Homo sapiens: one gene and its partner. The protein of the gene in region 1 purifies or fractionates together with the protein of each later gene. This does not show direct contact. Each region holds a gene or a part of one and is shown in the gene's direction. Other genes may lie near its edges.

Region 1 (3,917 bases):
TTTCACTCCCACACCTTTTTGTCTATCCGATAATTCAGGAATCTTTACAGAAACATCTTGTTTCCATTGAAATAAACAACAAGAGTAGGAAAAAGAGTGAAGCGAAATGGTTCTAAATTCTATGCACCAACAGGCATTAAACATGCATAAACTTTTAAAGAGATGCCAAGACTCACTAAAAAGGAGAAAAAAAATACAACGAAGGTTTCTGAGTAGTTTTTAGTTACTCAATTTAAAAACTTTATCTTGTAAGCAAACTTTAACATCATCCAGAGCATCGCACTTATATATGAAAGAAAAAGTTCTTTATCACACCTTCAGAAATTACAACTACAAATTCCTAATCCCTTATTTAAAATCTTTTTGGCTAGATATGTTTCAAAATTCAGAACTTTTCTTAGAATAGTACGTCTGCCATATATTATGAAACACTTCCAGCAAGCTGTACTGTAATCAAACACAATATTTCTGTAGAAAACTTATGAATATTTACACAAAGGGAACATTCAGTTACACATAGCCTCACTTCCCTTCAGGTCAAACTTTACTGCTAAAGGAGTTAGAAACGACAGACAAAGGAATGGGGCCTGTCATGACATGTTAATTTGAAATCTAAATCTTTATCTTTGATAACTAGTTCAGAGTCAGTGTAAACATTTGGTCTTTCCTTCCACAAAAAAATGAAACAGTGTATTTAAAATTAAAAATGAAACAGTATATTTTATTTCAGAAGGTAAAAGCAAAATGAATTAATCTGTGAAACTAAGTCAATCACATTATGATCTTCTAGAACTTGGGTAGCTCCACTCTGGTTAAAGATTCCATTTCTTGGCACAACAGTAAAAGACATCAGATAGGCCCGGGGGTAAGCATCCCTGGGGTATTCAAATAACTTGGGTAGCAATGAAGAGCTGCAGAAGAGCAAGGAGACCCGAGATGATGTAGTGTGCTGCGGCATACCTGAGTTGGGCAAACTCAGCCTCCGAAGATTAAAGGAAAGAGCCCAAGTAGGAATCTGTGTGATCACTGTTCTTTTGCCAAGACACGGGGTGGACAATAAGATTCCTTTACAAAGCACTGGTGTAAGTGTTCGCCTGGTGCTGCAAAAAGCGGCTCACTGGGAATGGGGAGGAGCGTGTGGTAAGCCAGACCTGCGGCGAGAAGTTGGGTGAAAATGGGTCTTAACCATCGCTTCCTGCATCTATCCCAGAGGGTTGGGTACCTTCGTGGGCGGAGCGCGGCCTGCCCAGAGTGCCTTCTAGATCCTGGGTCAGGCGCCAAGCTCCCCAGCATCATGCAGGAAGCTGCAGCCCCGCAGAGTTAGGACAGCTCATTTGGCACCCGGCGAGCCCTTCCCAGGCCCGCAGCCCAGAATAGAGCCGGGGCCCAAGACGCCCACTGGAGACAGGGTCGGGTCCCACTACCGCGCAGGCCCGGCTCGCCCCCGACGTCAGGCACGGGGCGGGACCCTTGCAGCTGTCCGTCCAGTCCCGTTCCCCGGAAAGTGAGGGGCGGGACCCTCGCGGCTTTCTATCCAATCCTGTTCCCCGGCGAATGCGGGGCGGGACCCTAGCGGCCTTCAGTCCAATTCCCGCACCTTTGAGGCCCAAGGGGGAGCGAGCCGGTGCTGCTGCAGGCTGAGGCTGCGGCAGAGGCGGCGAGGCGCGGGCGGTGAGGACGGACAGGTCCGTTGAAGCAGCATTCCCTCCCTCCCCTAATCCTTCAACTCGGGGGCGGGGGAAAGTTAAGTCGTGCAGAACCGCAAAGGTGCCTGGATTTGGTGGGGGAGTAGTGTCATCAAGCATCTCGCCTGCTGGGGTCTCAGGGGTACCCTCAAGGTTGGGCCGCGGGGCTGCTCCGTTGTAGTGCTTAGATTTCTCTCACTTGATGGCCTCTTGAGTGCAGAGTTGCTCTTGGGTTGGTGGGAAGAGCCTCCGAGCTCTCATTGCCCTCTGCTCCTGCTTCTACCCCTTGCCACTCTGCGACGAACCTGTTACCCAGCCACTGAAAACGTATCCTCTACCCTTTGAACCCGTCTAATGGAAGGTGTACTTGTCTGAAACCTACTTAATTGTATGATCATTTACTCCTGCTCTCTAGCAGGTGGACTATTTGCGTGTGTTTGCAGTGATTCACGAAAAGTTTGTCTTGGGAACTCCCAACTCCTAGTTTGTCTGCATTCCACCTTCTTTCACTAGCTTGTTCATTTCTTTTTCCCTCTTAAATATTTGTTAAGCTTGTTTCTTTCTTCCCACAGTCACCGACTTAGTCCAGTTCCCTGTGATCTCAAAACAATTGTTGCAGCAGGCTCCTGGCAGTCTCAAGCAGTTCATCTTCTTGGTGTACTGGTATGTGACAATTCCTTCACGTATTGTTCGTGGTTCTTTTCCACTTTCTGTGAATTCATATCTAATTGCCCCCAGAAAGTCAATTCTAATTAAATCTAGCATAATCATTTTCTTAGTGCTATTGGAACCATCTTATTTAACTTAATCTTTGTGGTTGAGAATTCAAGAAAACTCTTCAAGAAAGAATCCAATAATTTATATTTTTAATGTGTACCGGTTGGTGGGTTAAGCACTATAGTGGGTATGTAACTAATACTCTTGCTTCCAGTTTTCTAGAGTCTATTAAGTGGCACAGAGGTAAACAGAATAGCTTATCTTCTCTGTATGTGTGTACTAGTCTTCTATTGCTGCCTTAACCAATTACACAAATGCAACAATTAAAACAACACAAATGTATTATCTCATAGCTTCTGTAAATGTGAAGTTTGGGTGGGCTTAGCTGAGTACTTGGCTTAGAATTTCACAAAACCGAAACCAAGGTTTCTGTAGATTTGGATTCTTTTCTGGAGGCTCTAGGGGAGAATCCACCTCCAGGCTATTTCAGATTGTTGGTAGAATTCACACTGACATTTCTATATCCTTACTGTTTGTCAGCCTGAGCCTCTTTCAGTTCTTTAAGGCCATCTGCATCTTCAAAGACACCACAAATCCTTCTCAAGCATTAAAGCAGTCTTACTTGTCTGCCACTGGCCAGAGAAAGCTCTTTGCTCTTATGGACTCAAGTGATTAGATTAGTTCCAATTCGATAATATCCCTATTTTAAGGTCAGTTCTGTAGAGAATATCACAATCACAGGAGTAATGATCTCACCATATTCGCAGGTTCTGGGGATTAGCAGGGGTGGAATCTTGGGGGCCATTCATAGTAATTGTGCCTACCACAATATGGTGGTTTCAGGCAGGATTATTTTGTTTTTATAATGTGCTTTCACAGGCATTGAAAACAAATTCTGACTTTATTGAATTGTATGATTAACCACTCTAAGATAAGGAAATTCACTTAAAGTTGGTTGCCCTAGGGGCACATGGCTAGAAAGTGGCAGAGTCTGTACTTGGATCCAGATCTACATTTCCATTAGGTACAAACCCATTTTTATGGATGGTCAAAATGGTGTGCAGCCAAAGTCAATAGATAGAAAGAAGCTAAAGAACTTTGAGTTAATTATTATTTCTCATTTTCAAATTATCTCTTTATATTAGTGGTACAGGCTAAGCTCTTCTCCCTACAATAGAAAGCCCAAAATACAATGGTATGAATAAAATAGAAGTTTTTTTTTTTCCATACATCTAGAGGTAGGAGTCCAGGACTAGTAGGGAGATTCTGCAATCCTGCATATATGACTTCCATAAATGAGGCCATGGTGCTGTTTAGTTCGTCACTACCTAGCAGGTAGTAAAAAGGAGGGAAAGTGCAGGGAGAACACATGCATTCCTTTTTGGGAGCATGACCTGGAAGTGACACACACAAGGTCATCACAAAGCCACACTGAGCTCCAAGAGAGGGTAGGAAAGATAAAACTGGGGGCTGTATGCACAGCTACAACTCAGGATTCTGTTAAAGCAGAGGAAA
Region 2 (3,817 bases), on another chromosome or scaffold:
AAATGTAAGATGTGTTTTGAGGTGTCCCACTGTCTAAGTAACCTTAGACAGTGGGACCTTGGATAGTGAGATTTTGATGGTGGGGCCTGGATGAAGCATGTTAATTTTGGCTACGTAAGGTATGCGTTTTATTTATTTATTTATTTTGAGATAGAGTCGCACTCTGTTGCCCAGGCTGGAGTGCAGTGGTGTGATAATGGCTCACTGCAGCCTCAACCTCCCAGGCTGAATTGGTGCTCCCACCTCAGCCTCCCCTGTAGCTGGGACTACAGGCATGTGCCACCATGCCGGATAATTTTTGTGTTTTTGTAGAGATGGGGTTTTGTTATGTTGCCCAGGCTGGTCTCAAATTCCTGGGCTCAAGCGATCTGCCCACCTTGGCCTCCCAAAATGCTGGGATTACAGGTATGAGCCACTGTGCCTGGCCAATATGTGTACTTTTATACTAGATAGTTGTGAATACCAGGTTTTAAAGAAATACTATGTTGCACTCATTGACAAAAATTTAAACCATTCAAAAGAATTCAAGGGAAGAGTGAAACCCACCCCATATATATCCCATGGGGTATCCACTGCAAATAATTTACTGCTTATTTTTCCGGATACTCTTTTACAGTCATATAAGTTTACACATGAACACATATTTACATATGCCTATAATAGCAGACAAAATGGGATCACAATACACATTTCTGTAGTTTGCTTTGTTATTTAACATTATTCAAGAAACATCCATTAATATCGGGACATCTACATCTACCTCCTTTTAACTGCTGTGTGCTGCTCCCCTGCACACATCATGAGGTATTGAAGTTTTTCTCTATTTTGGGGCACTTTGGTTTTTACTAGCCTTTGGGTATTACAGTGCTGTACCCTTGGAACTGGTGTGCATGCCTGGTTGTTGGGGTAGCTGACAGGACTAGATGCTGGACACTGAGGTGATCTTGTGGGAAGTTCAGCGTTTGGCCATTTTCAGTATCACATGTCATCAGGCAGGTAGCATGATTCTCAAGCCAGGCCCCCAACCTACATTCATTCCAGGCATTGAAATCCAGAAAGAAAAACCAGCATTCCTGCAAAGATCTTGTTAGTGCTGAAGACCGGACCTAGAAGAGCATGTACCCAGAGGGACGGGGTGATTGCAGATTTGCAGGAACCTCACTGGAGCCAGTTTAGGGAGCTCACCCAGGATCATTATGGAAACATCAGGAGTTTAAGCACAGAGCCTGGTGTAACCTAAAGTTGCTATTGTAGTCACTTTCATTGCTCCTGTTAAAATGTTCATGGAATCATTGAGTTTTAGACTGAAAGAGACTCAACAGTCAGCTAGTCTATCACCTCCTCATACAGAAGAGGACCCTGAGACCGAGGAAGATGAGATGACTTGGCCTGTGGCCGGGATCTCAGGAACCCCGGATTGGAGGTCTTTTGGCCACACTACACATCTCTTCCTTTATTTTTTAGAAATCAATTAGAATTCACCAAACTCTAAATCTCATCTATTAGTTAACTGGTTTTTTTTTTTTTTTTTTTTTTTTGAGACAGGGCCTCACTCTCACTCAGGCTGGTGTGCAGTGGTGCAATCTCAGCTTACTGCAACCTCTGCCTCCCGGGTTCAAGTGATTCTCCTGCCTCAATTTCCCGAGTAGCTGAGATTACAGGCGTACACTACCATACCTGGCTAATTTTTGTATTTTTAGTAGAGATGGGATTTTGCCAAGTTGACCAGGGTCGAACTGGCCTCAAGTGATCCACCTGCCTCGGCCTCCCAAAGTGCTGGGATTAGAAGTGTGAGCCACTGCGCCCGGCCTAATTTTTGTATTTTTAGTAGAGACAGGGTTTAGCCATGTTGGCCAGGCGACATTTTTGATGTGAATTCAGGCTTAGATACCAAGGAGTCATTGCTTTGGGCAAATGTGCCCTGGGAGACTTCCCTCTGGGCTTCTGGCTCCCTCCATCCACTCTTGGGAGAGAAACTGTGCAGATCAGAACAGTCTGCAACTTGAAGTCAAGCTGATGAAGTTGTGGTTCAAATGTCAAATTCGAGTGTTGTCCACTTTGCATTCCTTTGGGAGAAAGTGGTGCTCCAGTGGCTTCAGGTTTTTTGTTTTGTGGAGTTGACTTCCCTTTGTATCCATTTCCAAATCACTGACTGAAGAATTCACTGATTTCATTCAATTAACAAAATATTACTGAACATCCACCATGTACAAAGTTCCAGAAGACGAGAACAACACAGAGTTTACTCTGTAGGAAAAAATATTTGTATCGTTCTAACACGCAATAGAGGTTTTGAAAGATGCTTTCTTTTTCTTTCTTTTTTTTTTTTTTGAGGCAGAGTCTCGCTCTGTTGCCCTTGCTGGAGTGCAGTGGGGCGATCTCAGCTCACTGCAACCTCCGCCTCCCGGGTTCATGCCATTCTCCTGCCTCAGCCTCCCATAGCTGGGATTACAGGCGCCCACCACCAAGCCCAGCTAATTTTTTTGTATTTTCAGTAGAGACGGGGTTTCTCCATGTTGGTCAGGCTGGTCTCAAACTCCTGACCTCAGGTGATCTGCCCGCCCCGGCCTCCCAAAGTCCTGGGATTACAGGCGTGAGCCACTGCGCCCGGTCTGAAAGATGCTTTCGCGGTGGCTCACGCCTGTAATCCTAGCGCTTTGGGAGGCCGAGTCGGGCGGATCACGAGGTCAGGAGATCGAGACCATCCTGGCCAACACGGTGAAACCCCGTCTCTACCAAAAAATACAAAAAAATTAGCCGGGCGTGGTGGCGGGCGCCTGTAATCCCAGCTACTTGGGAGGCTGAGGCAGGAGAATGTTGTGAATCTGGGAGGCGGAGCTTGCAGTGAGCCGAGATCGCGCCACTGCACTCCAGCCTGGGCGACATAGGGAGACTCCGTCTCAAAAAAAAAAGAAAGATGCTTTCATAGAGGTGCCAAAAATACGATTCATGGTGAAGGACTGTGGAGCGCCAAGAATGGGCACGTGCAGGGGAAGCAAAAGGCCCGGCGGCTGGACCGCAGTTCAGGCTGGAGGTCACAGGGGGAGGAGTCCTGAGGTGGGAAAGTGTTTCTGGAAAAGTTGCCCACTCAATTTGACCAAAGCATGGAGTACTCATGGTAGGGCGTTCGTGGATGTGAAATTGTGGGTACATTGGGGAAGCATCAAATGGCAAGGGTGAACACTTTACACTTTTGGGGGTATAGAAAAGGAGAGATCAAGGATTTTGAAAGTTTTTTGAGTGGGGCAGTTGCGTGACTGGAGACAAATCTGGAGAAGGTGTGGCTGGAAGTATATCGGAAGAGCGAAAGATAGGATATGGGAAAACCAGTGGCAAGGGGGAGCCGTCAGTTGAGTAGCCAGCAGAGCTGCAGCCTTGGAGGGGAGAGGAAGGATTTGGAAGAAGTCTGAGCATGGATTAGATGAGAAGGGCTGTGAGGGAGTTTCTGAAATCGCTGGTCCTAGCAATTGAATGCAGAGCCCATGCCACCACAAAACAAAACAACACAAAAACAAAAACAAGGAGGAGCTGGTTTTTAGTCTGGGGAAGGAGGGAAGATGATCCCAACATTTTGGAAACGCTGAACTTGAGATGTTAGAGGGTGATCTGTTGGGAGATGCTGTCCAGCTGCAGGCTGTTTTGCCTGTCTGTTTTGGCACGCTTGCCCTGAGGCAGAGAAAAGAGGAGGAGATCTGGACCAGTTTAGCAGACAGGAATGTGCAGGGATTCAGAGCACGTTTTGGAGAGAGATGGAGCCAAGCTTAGATTCCTGGCCCTGCCATTCAACGTCTGTGAGGATTGGGCTGTTGATGTGACA

What was found.
Region 2: the proteins of CROT (region 1) and FBP1 purify together in Homo sapiens (affinity purification with mass spectrometry; one large-scale study listed by BioGRID and IntAct). This does not show direct contact.

Annotation. Positions count from the first base shown.
Region 1 is NC_000007.14:87,344,083-87,347,999, forward strand, and holds the start of CROT (peroxisomal carnitine O-octanoyltransferase), read left to right. Parts: upstream 1-1,581; 5' UTR 1,582-1,685; intron 1,686-2,257; 5' UTR 2,258-2,348; intron 2,349-3,917. UniProt on the Homo sapiens protein: Beta-oxidation of fatty acids. The highest activity concerns the C6 to C10 chain length substrate. Converts the end product of pristanic acid beta oxidation, 4,8-dimethylnonanoyl-CoA, to its corresponding carnitine ester.
Region 2 is NC_000009.12:94,632,808-94,636,624, reverse strand, and holds part of FBP1 (fructose-1,6-bisphosphatase 1), read left to right. Parts: intron 1-3,817. UniProt on the Homo sapiens protein: Catalyzes the hydrolysis of fructose 1,6-bisphosphate to fructose 6-phosphate in the presence of divalent cations, acting as a rate-limiting enzyme in gluconeogenesis. Plays a role in regulating glucose sensing and insulin secretion of pancreatic beta-cells.